Linked DNA regions of Homo sapiens. The protein of the gene in region 1 purifies or fractionates together with the protein of each later gene. This does not show direct contact. Each region holds a gene or a part of one and is shown in the gene's direction. Other genes may lie near its edges.

What was found. Proteins that work in one complex are often made in the same cells at the same time.
Region 2: the proteins of DET1 (region 1) and CRY2 purify together in Homo sapiens (affinity purification with western blotting; one study listed by BioGRID). This does not show direct contact.
Region 3: the proteins of DET1 (region 1) and RNF14 purify together in Homo sapiens (affinity purification with western blotting, with the first as the bait; one study listed by BioGRID). This does not show direct contact.

What each region holds. Positions count from the first base shown.
Region 1 is NC_000015.10:88,536,234-88,541,164, reverse strand, and holds part of DET1 (DET1 homolog), read left to right. Parts: intron 1-4,783; exon of another isoform or gene 4,784-4,830; coding exon of another isoform or gene 4,831-4,853; intron 4,854-4,931. UniProt on the Homo sapiens protein: Component of the E3 ubiquitin ligase DCX DET1-COP1 complex, which is required for ubiquitination and subsequent degradation of target proteins. The complex is involved in JUN ubiquitination and degradation.
Region 2 is NC_000011.10:45,877,996-45,882,061, forward strand, and holds part of CRY2 (cryptochrome-2), read left to right. Parts: intron 1-2,918; 3' UTR 2,919-4,066. UniProt on the Homo sapiens protein: Transcriptional repressor which forms a core component of the circadian clock.
Region 3 is NC_000005.10:141,975,126-141,980,056, forward strand, and holds part of RNF14 (E3 ubiquitin-protein ligase RNF14), read left to right. Parts: intron 1-3,177; coding exon 3,178-3,705; intron 3,706-4,931. UniProt on the Homo sapiens protein: E3 ubiquitin-protein ligase that plays a key role in the RNF14-RNF25 translation quality control pathway, a pathway that takes place when a ribosome has stalled during translation, and which promotes ubiquitination and degradation of translation factors on stalled ribosomes.

The sequences.
Region 1 (4,931 bases):
TATTGCTGCCCGCAGGTCCCACCTCCAGCCCTAAGGCGGTTTTTCCCTATCTCAGTAGATGGAGCATACAATCGGGTTTTATACCGAGACATTCCATTGCCCAGGGACAGGCAGGAGACAGATGCCTTCCTCTTGTCTCAACTGCAAGAGGCATTCCTTCCCCTTTTACTAATCCTCCTCAGCACAGACCCTTTATGGGTGTCGGGCTGGGGGACGGTCAGGTCTTTCCCTTCCCACGAGGCCATATTTCAGACTATCACATGGGGAGAAACCTTGGACAATACCTGGCTTTCCTAGGCAGAGGTCCCTGCGGCCTTCCACAGTTTTTGTGTCCCTGGGTACTTGAGATTAGGGAGTGGTGATGACTCTTAAGGAGCATGCTGCCCTCAAGCATCTGTTTAACAAAGCACATCTTGCACCGCCCTTAATCCATTCAACTCTGAGTTGACACAGCACATGTTTCAGAGAGCACGGGGTTGGGGCTAAGGTCATAGATTAACAGAATCTCAAGGCAGAAGAATTTTTCTTAGTACATAACAAAATGGAGTCTCCTATGTCTACTTCTTTCTACACAGACACAGTAACAATCTGATCTCTCTTGCTTTTCCCCACACCAAGAGAAAAATTTTCCAGCATACATTGGAGGGGGCTCCAACACTTGCAAGGCTGGGAGGAAGTGTTTCCCATTTTTTTTTTTTTTTAGAAGGCAATTTAACAGAATTTGAGCAGAGGTATCAGATCCAACATGGACAGAGAAACTCACTCCCTGGGGGGCTGGAGTATCAGAAAAACAGAATTAACATAACCAGAAAGAACAGAAAAATCACAACAGCTAATACCACTTGCCACATTGCTGTAGCTTTAAGATTGAGGGAGGGGGACTAGAGGCCAGCCTGAGGTCTCCTGGGTCAGTTGGATCTAGGCGTTCTCCCTCTTCTTCTAGATCTGTACCCTAAATACCTTTGGTGTCTCCATGACTCAAAGGCAAATAGCTTAAATTTAGCTCTTTCTTTCAAGGGTTCAAGGAGCGAGAGCAGAGCCAAGTCCTGGAGACACTGAACTTGCTGTCGCAGTGGAAACCGAAATGTGCAGAGTAGGGGGCAGGGACGAGGGGGAAAGGGACCACTCAGGTCATTTTTAAGATGAGAGAGTAGCCACAGGGGAACAGAGTAGGAGTCTAAACGAAGTAAAGCATGACAGGTGTAGGTTTCCCTACACAGTGTTCTGTTTAAGGGCACAGGAAAAGTTACAGAATGACAAAAAAGGTGAGCAAGGAAATCTGCAGGGTGGCTGTTTTGAACCCACCACCGGTTTAATCTAGAGGAGGTCCAATCACTTGGATGTGGGGTATGGCAATCTAAATGCCCACAACTTCCATGGTGCCAGAGATTTCAATCAGATGAATGTTCTTCACACTCATTCCTGTAACAACACCTTACTTGCCTCTGGCAGAAAAGACAGGACTGTGGTGGCCAGCCTGAACAACCGATGAGAAATTTAACCTCTTGTGACAAAAAAATCAGCACTAAGGACCTTGAAGAAGTTTTTACCCAGACGTCTTGGGCAATACCGACGTCCTGACATGCAAAACCTTGACAACCACTAAACAAGACAATAAACACTAAGCAGAAAAATAAACATAAAACAAACAATTTGACCCTAGGGCAGGTAAACAGTTTTGACAGTTTTTTCCTTTTTTTTTTTTTTTTTTTTTTTAGACAGACAAGGGGGGGCCCTCCCGTGATGGGATCAGTCAGATGCCCACCTGGTCACTTCCCCTGAGGGGACTTGGGCTCCTCTTAGCATTGGCAGGCCGGTATAAACCCCCGGCTTGGATCGAGCTATGTCCGATGCTGCCTTAAGCCTTGTGAGGTCGCCCCAGAACTGCAGGTGAGGGCCCACTCAAACTGTGTAGCTTTCGCCGTGGAGCTACAAACTGGAAGACAAATGCAAGCCTTTGTCCTCCCACAGTCACTCACCATTCACAGAGTTTATAACAGTTTTTTTTTTCTTTCCTGGAGATTCTCCAAGAAACTTGAATAAGAGAAAGAGAGAGAGAGAGAGAGAGAGCGGTCTGCCAGAAACCAAGGCTCAGCTCCCCAGCATCCTGGGTCTTCAGCTAAGTCCAAGGGAGGGGCCTGATCAGGACCACTTCCCACCTAAACCAAGACACAGAGGCGCCTACCAGAAAACCAAGGCTCAACCCAGTAGCGTCCTAGAGTAACGGGCTGAGTCAAAAGAGGGATGCCCTCGTCAGGGCCACTTCCCTCTTACCAGAACCAGAACAAAGTCAAATCTGACCTACCTGACCCCGGGGTGAGAAGCTGAGGACTCAGATGTTGAATTTTAAGGCACTGACATGGTAGTCGATCCACTCTCCTCCGGAAGGTGGTCACTGTTTGGGGACCTGAAAATTCTTTCCTCAGGTGGTAACCCCCTCTGAGCCGGCCGTCCTTCCGGGGGAGCCCGGAGCAAGACCAACTCTCACCCAGTGGCATTAATTTCTCGCTGGGGCCTCCATTATGTTGTACCCGGGGTGTTAGAGAAAACGCCACACTTTGAGACTAATTAAGAGTCCTTTACTAGCCGGTGACCGAGAGACGGCTAATGCTCAAAATTCTCTCAGCCCTGAGGAAGGGGCTTGATTAACTTTTATACCTTGGTTTAGGAAGGGGAGGGGGGGTCTAGTTAAAACAATTTTACAGAAGTTAGGTAGTCAAAAAGTTAAAAGGATAAATGGTTACAGGAAAGTAAACAGTTCCAGGTGCAGGGGCTTTATGACTATTACAAGGTGATAGACGTGGGGCTTTGGGTGTTATCAATCAGATGAATTCTTGGGGACTGTGGATATAGCTTGCCACAGTATCTTATCAGTTAATTGCATTCTTGGATGTGCTGGGAGTCAGCTTGCACAAGTTAAGTCCTTGAGGAAGGGGCTGCCAGTGAAAGAGCCAAGATGGAGTCTGTCTGGCTCTCTTAGCTAAGGGAGAGTCTAAAAACAGAGTTAGTAAAAACCAGTTTGGGCATTACAAGTGTCCCAATTCAGTCAGGCTTTCTTCTTTCGTTCCATAAAGTACCAAATGCCTACCATGTGCCAGTCCCAGTGCTAGGCTCTGAAAATACCGCATGACCGAGGTAGACCTGGTTACTTCCTGTCTGGAGAGTACAGGGTAGCAAGGGAATCAGACATTAAACACAAGCATGCAAGTGAAAGTGTAAATACAACTTGCAGTGATTACTATGGAGAAGACAAAATGTAATAATAACGGGAGTCCTGTTTTAGATAGGATGGTCAGGGAACACTTCCTAAAGGAGACTGCACTTAAGCTGCAACTTGAGAAGTTACAGCAAGGGGCAGGGGAAATGCATTCCAGGCAGAGGGAATAGTCCCTGTGGATGCCTGAGTTGACACAGAACTTCCCGTTAGACAGGTCCAGTGTTCAAGAAGGGAGGCTTACCATGTGTCAAACACTGTGATGAGCATACAGAATATAGTGTTTGCGTACTGGTCGGTGGGACATCACCATCTAATGAGGGCCATAAACATAAGTAAGATCTTCATCTCAGCTGCTCAACTCTGCCTATGTAGGGCAAAAGCAATATGTAAATGACTGGGTATGGGAGGGTTCCAGTGAAATTTCATTTACAAAAACTGGGAGGTAGGGGTCAGGTGTGGTAGCTCATGCCTGTAATCCTAGCACTTTGGGAGATCAAGGCAGAAAGATCACTTGAGCCAGGGAGGTCCATGGTGGTACCACTGTACTCCAGCCTGGGCGACAGAGTGAGACCCCAAAAAATCCAGGAGGTGAGAGATGGGCTAGATTTGGGCTGAGGGCGGTAGTTTGCAGACTCTTGCTCTAGTCTAGATCAGTATACATTTTATGTCTTTACTCAGTGCATGTAACTCCAATATAATTGAAATAAACGTTTTACAAAACAGTGCTTACCATTGCAATATATGATAGCTTGATACTTTCTATTTCATTTTTTAAAATGTCCGTAATACTATTCACTAAATTGATCCAAGGCTCTATTCATGAGGTGTGACTAGCAGTTTGAGAAACTTGCTCAGTCATGGAGGTATGTACATTTTTAACTTGACTGGGTATTATATATACTTATATAAGGCATTTGGAACCTTTTCAGAAGGAGACAGAATATGAATAAATACCTCATTGTGTGTACGTTTTAAAATACAGATTGGATCCAATCGCTCCCCTGCTTTCCAGTCTTTTTCTAGGCCTCTCTTATCACTCACTCTGTGCTTCCTGTGCTCTAACCACTTGAAATTGCTCTGTTTCCCAAATGTGCCATGTCATGCTTTTTAAAAATGTGTCTTTTAGCCTTTTAGGTACCTTTTTATCTAGTTTGTTCCTTTTTTTTTTTTTTTTTTTGAGATGGAGTCTTGCTCTGTTGCCCAGGCTGGAGTGCAGTGGTACAATCTTGACTCACTGCAACCTCTGCCTCCCGGGTTCAAGCAGTTCTCCTGCCTCAGCCTCCTGTGTAGCTGGAGTCCCCGCCACCATGCCCAGCTAATTTTTGTATTTTTAGTAGAGATGGAGTTTCACTATGTTGGCCAGGCTGGTCTCGAACTCCTGACCTTGTGACCTCCCTGCCTCAGCCTCCCAAAGTGCTGGTATTACAGGCGTGAGCCACTGCACCCGGCCAGTTTGTTCCTCTTTTACTTTGTTTAGTGTATTCTTATTCTTCAAGGCTCATACCAATTGTTGCTCCATTAATTATTTTAACATATTTATGAGCGCTTAACTGTCCCTTCTCCTAGGTGCTGGGAATACAGCAAGGAATTAGACCAGTTCCCTGCTCTCTGGTATGGTGGGACAGATACTAAAAAGGTAAACAACTTAATTTCAGGAAGAGATAAAGACCATTAATAATATAGGGTGTATCAGTAAATTCATGTGGGCAGACGT
Region 2 (4,066 bases), on another chromosome or scaffold:
CTTCATGAGCCTGCCCAAAACTAACTGGTGCCGAAGTCAACATATGTCTGAATTGTTATCATTATATCCACCTGACTGTACCTCACCCTCTTATCTTCTAAGCTTAGGCATTGGTTCTTAAACCCTGTTTGGGTTACTCCCCACTTTGGAAAGTCGATGGAGGATGGAACCCATACCCAGAAAACTGCATATGTTCACACACAGAGAGGAATGTGCACATCACTCCAGAGGCTCCATGGACTGCACCAAAGCCTATCCTTGGGCTCCTTAAGGCCCAGGAACCCCAGATTAACAGCAGTTATTCTAAGGAATCTTCATGCACTCTTTATCTTCCCCCATCCCTGAAAATGGATAAAACACACACAAAAAAAATGGAGGTGTTGGGCAAGGAGGACCTTTTGTGGTATATCCTGCAATCCTGAAAGTTTTCTATTTCAGAAGAATAGCCATCTCTTTAGTTTAACAACAGGGGCCAGAGAGAGCCCTGTGTGTGGAGTATATACTCAGAATCAGCACATTTCAATAAATACATGTACACCTTAATAATACATACATTTGTAGCAAAAAAATGGCTAGGTTATTATAGTACAAGCTTAAAGGGAAAAATTATTGAAAATAACACACATTTTAAAGAATAAAACACACAGCCAGGTGCGGTGGCTTACGCCTGTAATCCCAGCACTTTGGGAGGCTGAGGGGGGCGGATCACCTGAGATCAGGAGTTCAAGACCAGCCTGGGCAACATGGTGAAACCCCATCTCTACTAAAAGTACAAAAATTAGTTGTGGTGGCAGGTGTCTGTAATCCCAGCCACTTGGGAGGCCAAGGCAGGAGAATTGCTTGAACCCAGGAGGCAGAAGTTGCAGTGAGCCAAGATCGCGCCACTGCACTCTAGCCTGGGCAACAGAACAAGACTCCATCTATTAAAAAAAAAAAAAAAAAAAAAAAAAAAAGTCGGGCTCGGTGGCTCACTCCTGTAATCCCAGCACTTTGGGAGGCTGAAGTGGGTGGATCACCTGAGGTCAGGAGTTAGAGACCAGCCTGACCAACATGGAGAAACCCCATCTCTACTAAAAATACAAAATTAGCCAGGTGTGGTGGCACATGCCTGTAATCCCAGCTACTCAGGAGGCTGAGGCAGGAGAATCGCTTGAACCTGGGAGGCAGAAGTTGCAGTGAGCCAAGATCACTCCATTGCACTCCAGCCTGGGCACTAAGAGTGAAACTCTGTCTCAAAAAAAAAAAAAGAATAAGACACACAGTACTGACCTATACAGGCACCCACTCTTATGTCTGCTCTTTATTTTGCCCAGCTTCCAGATAAATTATCATCAGATAAAATCTGCTTCAGATTTACCATGCGGCCTTAAAAGCATCGCATGATACTGAATCCTTGTCTCCAATGTCTTTGACTTTAAGAGCATTTTCCCTTTTCTAATAACAGCTTAATTCACATGTATGTCTGTTGGATATTAGTCTTCATGCTGCCATGTTGAATTTCTTCTAAAAGTCTTCTTCTCTAAAAGTCTTAATGAGCAATACTATCGTATAGAGATTACTTGCTAGTAAAAAGACAGATTTGAGAATCAGACAGATGTGGATTTCCTTTTTTGGCTCTGCCACTTATGAATGCTGTTGTCCTGGGCAAGTTCCTTCTCCTCTCTGGTTTCTGTTTTCTCATCTACAAAAATGGAGGGCAAGCTTCAAGGTTACTGGGATCTCAAGTTGTGTTAGTCTGCTCAGGCTGCCATGACAAAGTACCACAGACTGGGTGGCTTAATCAAGAGAAATGTGTCCTCTCACTGTTCTGGAGGCTGGAAGTCTAAGATCAAAATGTTGCCAGGGTTGGCTTCTTTTCTTCTGAGGCTCCTCTCTGTGGCTTATAAACAGCCATCTTCTCCCTATGTCTTCACATGGTCTTCCCTCTGTACTGTCTGGGTCTAAATTTCCTCTTCCTTTAAGGACACCAGTCATATTGGATTAGGGCCCACACTAATGACCTCATTTAACTTAATTACCTCTTTAAAGACCCTGTCTCCAAATACAGTCACCTTCTGGGGTACTGGGGGTTAGGACTTCAACATAAGAATTTTGTGGGGGACAGAATTCAGCCACAGCACAAGTGTATAGTACCTGACCCACGGCAGGCTTAGTAAGCCTACTTATTGTCTACCTCACCCACATTTAAACTGCACAAACTTTTAATGGGACGCTGTGTGTCTCTGTAGACTCCCAGACACACTAAACCTATTTAAACAGACAACTCAGCATTGTGACAGGCGCACTCTGTCCTTCCTTTATTATCAGGGATGAAGCTGTTTCTTCTCTTTGCCCCAGATTCCGGATGTCATAAATCTTTAAAATGAGTCATCCTTGTGTCTCCTCTCTCCCTCCTGCCCCCACAATCTTCCAGCACTGTGCCAGGGTGCTTTCATCTATATGTGGAAATGTGCTCACCTGCTGATTGTAAACTCAGTCATTGCCTTACTCTTCAAAATTACTGGTCCCAGCGGGCTTCTCTTCCAGCCATTTTTTCCTGATTCTCCATCTCTGGCAGCAGCTGCTGTGCCTTGATTCAGAAGCTGCCCTTGTCATATCTGAGCAAGTATCCCCCAGGGCTTCACGTGACTCTCACATAGCCTTGTCCTCCTCCTCCTCTGCTGTCCGCAGCCCTGGGTGGAGGGCCTGCAGTGGGGAGCTTGTCCTGCATCAGCACCTCAGAGGGGCAGTATTCCCTCATCCCAGTGGCATCCCAGCAACAACCTGTCCCCAGGTACCGTGGCCCTTTCAGCTCACTCTTTCAGCTCTTCTCAGGTCCCGCTCTGAATGTCCCCAGAGAAGCAGCCAGAGGAGCTTGTGTCCCTGGGCAACTGAGCAGCCTCCTGAATGCTCCTTTTGCACTTGTTTTTCTCTTCCAGCTGCAGAGCCCTTGCTCCGTGAGCAAAGCCTGGGTGCCCAAGCAGCCACCGCAGCAGCAGAGTACAACCTGCAGAGAAGCTGATCACCGGGCAGAGATAGAGCGAGCATGTGTGTGTGTGTGCGCGTGTGCAGAGGAGGGAGTGGTGTGCCTGTTTGTGTGTGCATGCATCTGTTGACACTCATGATTCTGAATGTTGCCTGGGCTGGGGGAGTACCTGTAGCACGCCAGTGCTGTTTCCCGGCCTCCAGACACAAGGCTCGAGGTTATGGCAGTGACTTTCAGCTGAGACCTGTTCCTGCAAGCCAGCTGCCTTGTCTGAACAGAACGTAGTGGTAGGACCCTAGCTGGGATTCTGGCATCTGCCTCCCTAGACCTCCTTCCCTCCCTCCTCACGTCAGGCTGTGGAGCAGGAGCACAGCAGTTCTGGCTGTTGTCCAAAGCATGGGATTCTGGAGGCAGCCAGAGCCCTGCTGAGTTCCTGCTTTCTGACCTGGAGGCTGAGCAGGCCGGAGTGGATGGATGCTGTCCAGACGTAGCCACCTGGCCTCTGTTTCTTATTTTAAAATTCTCTGCTACTGGGCTCAGTCCCAGGCCCTTCCTTGGGCTTCTGGGACTGAGCATGAGGCCATAGACAGATCTAAAAAGTTTCCACCACCCTACAGAAGTACACACAGATACCTGACTGGTGTGGGGTATGCCTGGTACTGTAATAGGAGCCTAAGACAGCACACCTACCTTTTCAGGATTTAGAACCTAAAATTAGAAAGAGAATCCCAGCTGTCATTGTTCCTTCCCCAGAAGCTAAGAGCCAGCCTCAGAGCCTACCCAGGAGCTGTGAAGGGGCAAGGGTCAAACTGACTCACTCTACCAGGAGGAGACCAGGTTGCAGTGGCGTAAGGCCCCCTGGTTTCTCTGGCCACACTCCAAGGCACCACAGTGCTGCCAGTGAGGACAGCTGACACCCAGCCAGGGAAACCATTCTAGTCTTTATTCTGTTGGCTTCCAGGGCCTGTCCTGGACTTGTCAGCATCCAGACTGCCATGTCAGCTATCCCAGTAGCTGAGCTCCAAGGACTCAGGCAGAGGGACTCAGGGATGGGGACTGCCAGGGGCAGTTGGCAAAAGTCCAAGTAGAGATTACACCCAG
Region 3 (4,931 bases), on another chromosome or scaffold:
TTTGGTGTTTTAAAAAGGAATGGCAGTAATTAAAACAATCATGAATTGTAGTAGGAGTAATTTTTAATCAAGTATATTATTTCTTTTCTTGTCTTGCTATTTTCCTGTTTAATCTGTATTATAATGGAGACTAAGAGGTCTTCCTCATTTTCCTTAGACATTGATACTACTTTTCTCTTAGTTTCTTATCCATTCCTTAAATGAAAGATTCCATTGTAATTAGGACTAAAAATTGAGCTAATGTAGTTATAATAAGCAAATTTTCTGAGTGAATACAATAACTGATTTTCTTTGTAAAAATCTGTATTAATAACAAATAACAGTCAACTGGTATCACGTAGACATAAATGCATACAAGTAGAAATGTGTATAGTTCCTGTAGATATCTCAGTAAGGCTTGAGGCCTTATGTTAAGCACCTCATTTCCTCTGGGTTATATATACTTTTCTAGTAACAACCTCAACTCTTGATTGAGACATAAATATGGCTTGAAGCTAAATATAAATAATATAAAGCATTCTGGGAGAGATAATGAATCAGCAGCTGCTTTTCTAGAAGTCATAATGAAGATCAATAGACTAATGTGTATTAAGACAAAAGCTCAGCCTGTGCAACATGGCGAAACCCAATTTCTACAAAAAATACAAAAATTAGCCAAGTGTGGTGGTGCGTCCCTGTAATCCCAGATACTTGGGAGGCTGAGGTGGGAGGATCACTTGAGCCTGGGTGGCAGAGATTGCAGTGAGCCAAGACTGAGCCACTGCACTCCAGCCTGGGTGACAGACAGAGACCCTGTCTCAAAAAAAAAAAAAAAAGAAAAAGACAAAAGATGTCAGAGTTGCTGACCTCAAGGAATAGCTCATTAGTTTTTCTCTTTGGATCATACAGTTTTCATTTCCCCATCCACCAATCTAATCTTTTAAGTGAGAGTACTTTCACAAACTAGAGCTTATGGTTTAAAAGCAAAATTAAACCTTAAAAAGGATAACACAGGTAGAATAAAAAGGAGTATTACTTTACATTCTAATGTCTGTGCCAGAGGCAACAGATGCAAGACAGTTGATTTGTCCAGGAATATCAAGACTGTTTGGCATTTAGGCCACTGATAGTTGGCTTAATTATTTAGATCTTCATAGTCCTATTTCACCAGAGAGCTTTTCATACTTTACATCCACGCATGTGCGTGCATGCACGTGCATGCACACACACGCACAAAACAGGGACAGATTAACTGGATGCGTGGTTGTGGTTTCAGATTCCAGCCAACCAGCATCTACTTAATGCTGGATTTGGGGGCGGAGGTGTGTGCTGGGGAAGAGAGTTGTTTTATGTGTTACAGCTAAAATTACAGTAGAATTCTTAATCAAATAAATGTTTATGCATATAATTAACATTTTAATTGGTCTCTTATATTCCTTCTTGGTTCAGTTCTTGTTTGTTGCTGTACCCTGATTCCTTGGCATTATGACTCTCACCTGTTAATGGTGAAATTGACACATAGAGCTGTCATTCCCTGAATTGGGGCGGGTAGACAGAGGGAAGTGGTTTTAGTTTTCTAAAACCTTATTCCTTATTCCTCCCCCAATATACTTACACAGTCTCTTTCCCGTCCCCCTTCCATTTACATGCATTCCAGCTGCCTTTCTCTCTCTTTTTTTTTTTTTTTTTTTTTTTTTTTTTTGAGATGGAGTCTTGCTCTGTCACCCAGGCTGGAGCACAGGGGCACAATCTCAGCTCACTACAACCTCTGCCTAGTGGGTTCAAGTGGTTGTCCTGCCTCAGCCTCCCAAGTAGCTGGGAATACAGGCGCCCGCCACCACACCTGGCTAATTTTTTGTATTTTTTAGTAGAGACAGGGTTTCACCATGTTGGCCAGGCTGATCACCAACCCCTGACCTCAGGTGATCCACCCGCCTTGGCCTCCCAGAGTTCTGGGATTACAGGCATGAGCCACCACGCCCAGCCCCAGCTGCCTCTCTTGAGAAGGGACTGGGGTAGAAAAGAGGTTGGAGAATGGCTTCTTCATAGGACTTGGTAGCTCACACAGCACTCATAGCTTCCCTTTTAGTATTTATCACATTTTACAGATGTTAGCAGATTTCTCAAAAGCATGGTTGATTTATAAGGATATTTATGCAAATGTGAAAAATCATTAGTTGTTCAATCTTAACTCATCAATAAGTATTTAAGGTAGTACCTATGCAGGGTTTAGTCAGTGGCACTACACAGAGTGTAAGAAACAGAAAATCTGGTCCCTTTTCATTTGTCATTTAAATTTACAAAATTTGTTTGCCATCTGGAAGGCATATTTTTGGATGTTTACCTAAAAAAGAAAAGCTGCTTATAATTCCTGTGCTCTAGTTAAAAATATTTTATATTTCTAATGGAAAATTCTCCAACATTTGCCTTTCAAATTGAACAGACCACTTTTAAAGAGGAAAATTCCAAATAATTTAATTTTGGTTGCTTAGCTTAGGAAGTGTAAGCTTTCTCTATGGCTGCCAAACCTTGCTGAGGGCTTGTGATTAGGACCAGGGTCAATATCAGGCAGCTTCCCTCCATTAACCAGGATCTGATATAAGCCCAGATTGCTTACTTAAAAGCAGCTTGTAAATCTGAACAAGGACTCTGAGGTTGAATTCTGTTAGTGATTGTTTCAGATGAGTTGACTTTTTGATAAAACTGAAAGAATTAATTTTAAAACTTGGATAGTATTTTTAAACTATTCTTTTTCTAACCATTATTCTAGGATACGAACAGGGCTAGGACTCCTAATGGAAGAAAAATAGTTTATTTTTAGAACTAGATCTCTTTGTCCTACATGAGGTATATGGCAGTACTAAAAGATTAAAGAACAGAAAAAAGTCTTCCATTTCAGTGGCTAAAATGTACAGCTATTTCTCTACCTTACGGAGTCTTGCTATTTCTCTTCTTCTCGTGGTACTTCTTGCTTCTGACTTTATGTTCTACTCTGGCTCATGTTGCCGAATAGTTTAAGAAGTGCTCCAGTAAGAATGTTTGTACTGTTTTGTATGTAGCACAGTGTATCACAGCAGTAAAAAATAGTGTTAGAATAAGGGCCTAACTTGCAAGTGGAAAAGATTTCTAGGGAAACCAGGAGTTGGCAGCAGCATCATCTTTCCAAACTCACCAACATCTTCATGTGTTTTCTCCTAGCTATCTGCTCTATGCAAGCACTTAGACAACCTATGGGAAGAACACCGTGGCAGCGTGGTCCTGTTTGCCTGGATGCAATTTCTTAAGGAAGAGACCCTAGCATACTTGAATATTGTCTCTCCTTTTGAGCTCAAGATTGGTTCTCAGAAAAAAGTGCAGAGAAGGACAGCTCAAGCTTCTCCCAACACAGAGCTAGATTTTGGAGGAGCTGCTGGATCTGATGTAGACCAAGAGGAAATTGTGGATGAGAGAGCAGTGCAGGATGTGGAATCACTGTCAAATCTGATCCAGGAAATCTTGGACTTTGATCAAGCTCAGCAGATAAAATGCTTTAATAGTAAATTGTTCCTGTGCAGTATCTGTTTCTGTGAGAAGCTGGGTAGTGAATGCATGTACTTCTTGGAGTGCAGGCATGTGTACTGCAAAGCCTGTCTGAAGGACTACTTTGAAATCCAGATCAGAGATGGCCAGGTTCAATGCCTCAACTGCCCAGAACCAAAGTGCCCTTCGGTGGCCACTCCTGGTCAGGTAACTGTTTACCCTGCTGATGGTTGCCTCCTAATTCTCTTCCATAAATGGAGATATCATCTCAGGAACTTCCTTGATAGGGCTCATGGGGCAGTCCGAGGCCTTGGAGCCAGCCCACAAGTTGTTTTGCTGTATCCATTAAAAATGCTATGGTCTTAGTCTACTGCTTAAGCAAATGGAATGCTTCCTTTGGCCTTGCAGTGGGCAAGGATGAGTGTTAAAGTAGTTATTAAGTAATTGTGATAATTTACTTTGTATATCTGCTAGTAGGATCCCATAAACCTTGGGGAATCACTAGCTTATTCTTGTGTGAGGTTGGCATCTGAAGGGGACGTCTCTTAGAATGATTAACCAACTTTTTTATAGACTTCAGCAGAAGTACAGCCTACTTAGGTGGTGGTGGTGTTGTTGTTGTTGTTGTTGTTGTTGTTTTGTTTGAGATGGAGTCTTGCTGTGTCACCCAGGATGGAGTGCAGGGGCATGATCTCAGCTCACGGCAACCTCTGCCTCCAAGGTTCAAGTGATTTCCTGCCTCAGCCTCCCAAGTAGCTGGGATTACAGGCACCCGCCACCATGCCCGGCTAATTTTTTTTGTATTTTTAGTAGAGACGGGGTTTCACCACGTTGGCCAGGCTGGTCTTGAACTCCTGACCTCAAGTGATCCTCCCGCTTTGGCCTCCCAAAGTGTTGGGATTACAGGCGTGAGCCACTGCTCCTGGCCAGTTTTTTGTTTTCTTATTAAAGCATAATTTTACTTAAAATAAACTACACATTTAAATCATACAAGGCTAGCATGGTAGCTTACACCTATAATCCCAGCACTTTGGGAGGCCAAGATAGGAGGATCGCTTGAGGCTAGGGGTTTAAAACCAGCCTGTGCAAAATAGCATGACTCCATGTCTTAAAAAAAAAAAATCAGGCATGATGGCAAGTGCCTGTTGCCCTAGCTACTTGGGAAGCTGAGGTAGAGAATCATTTGAGCCCAGGAGTTCAAGGCTGCAGTGAGCTATGATTGCACCACTGCACTCCAGTCTGTACGACAGAGTAAGACCCCATCTCTAAAGAAATAAAACTAAAATATAAAATAAATTGGACACTTTGCTTAGTTTTAACAAATGTGTAGACCCCTATAATTGTCATCTCAGTCAAAATGTACTTGGTTTGATTTTGAAGTGAAAGAGAGGTTTTAATTTATGTGCCCATCTGGTTTACACTAGCATCCTAAG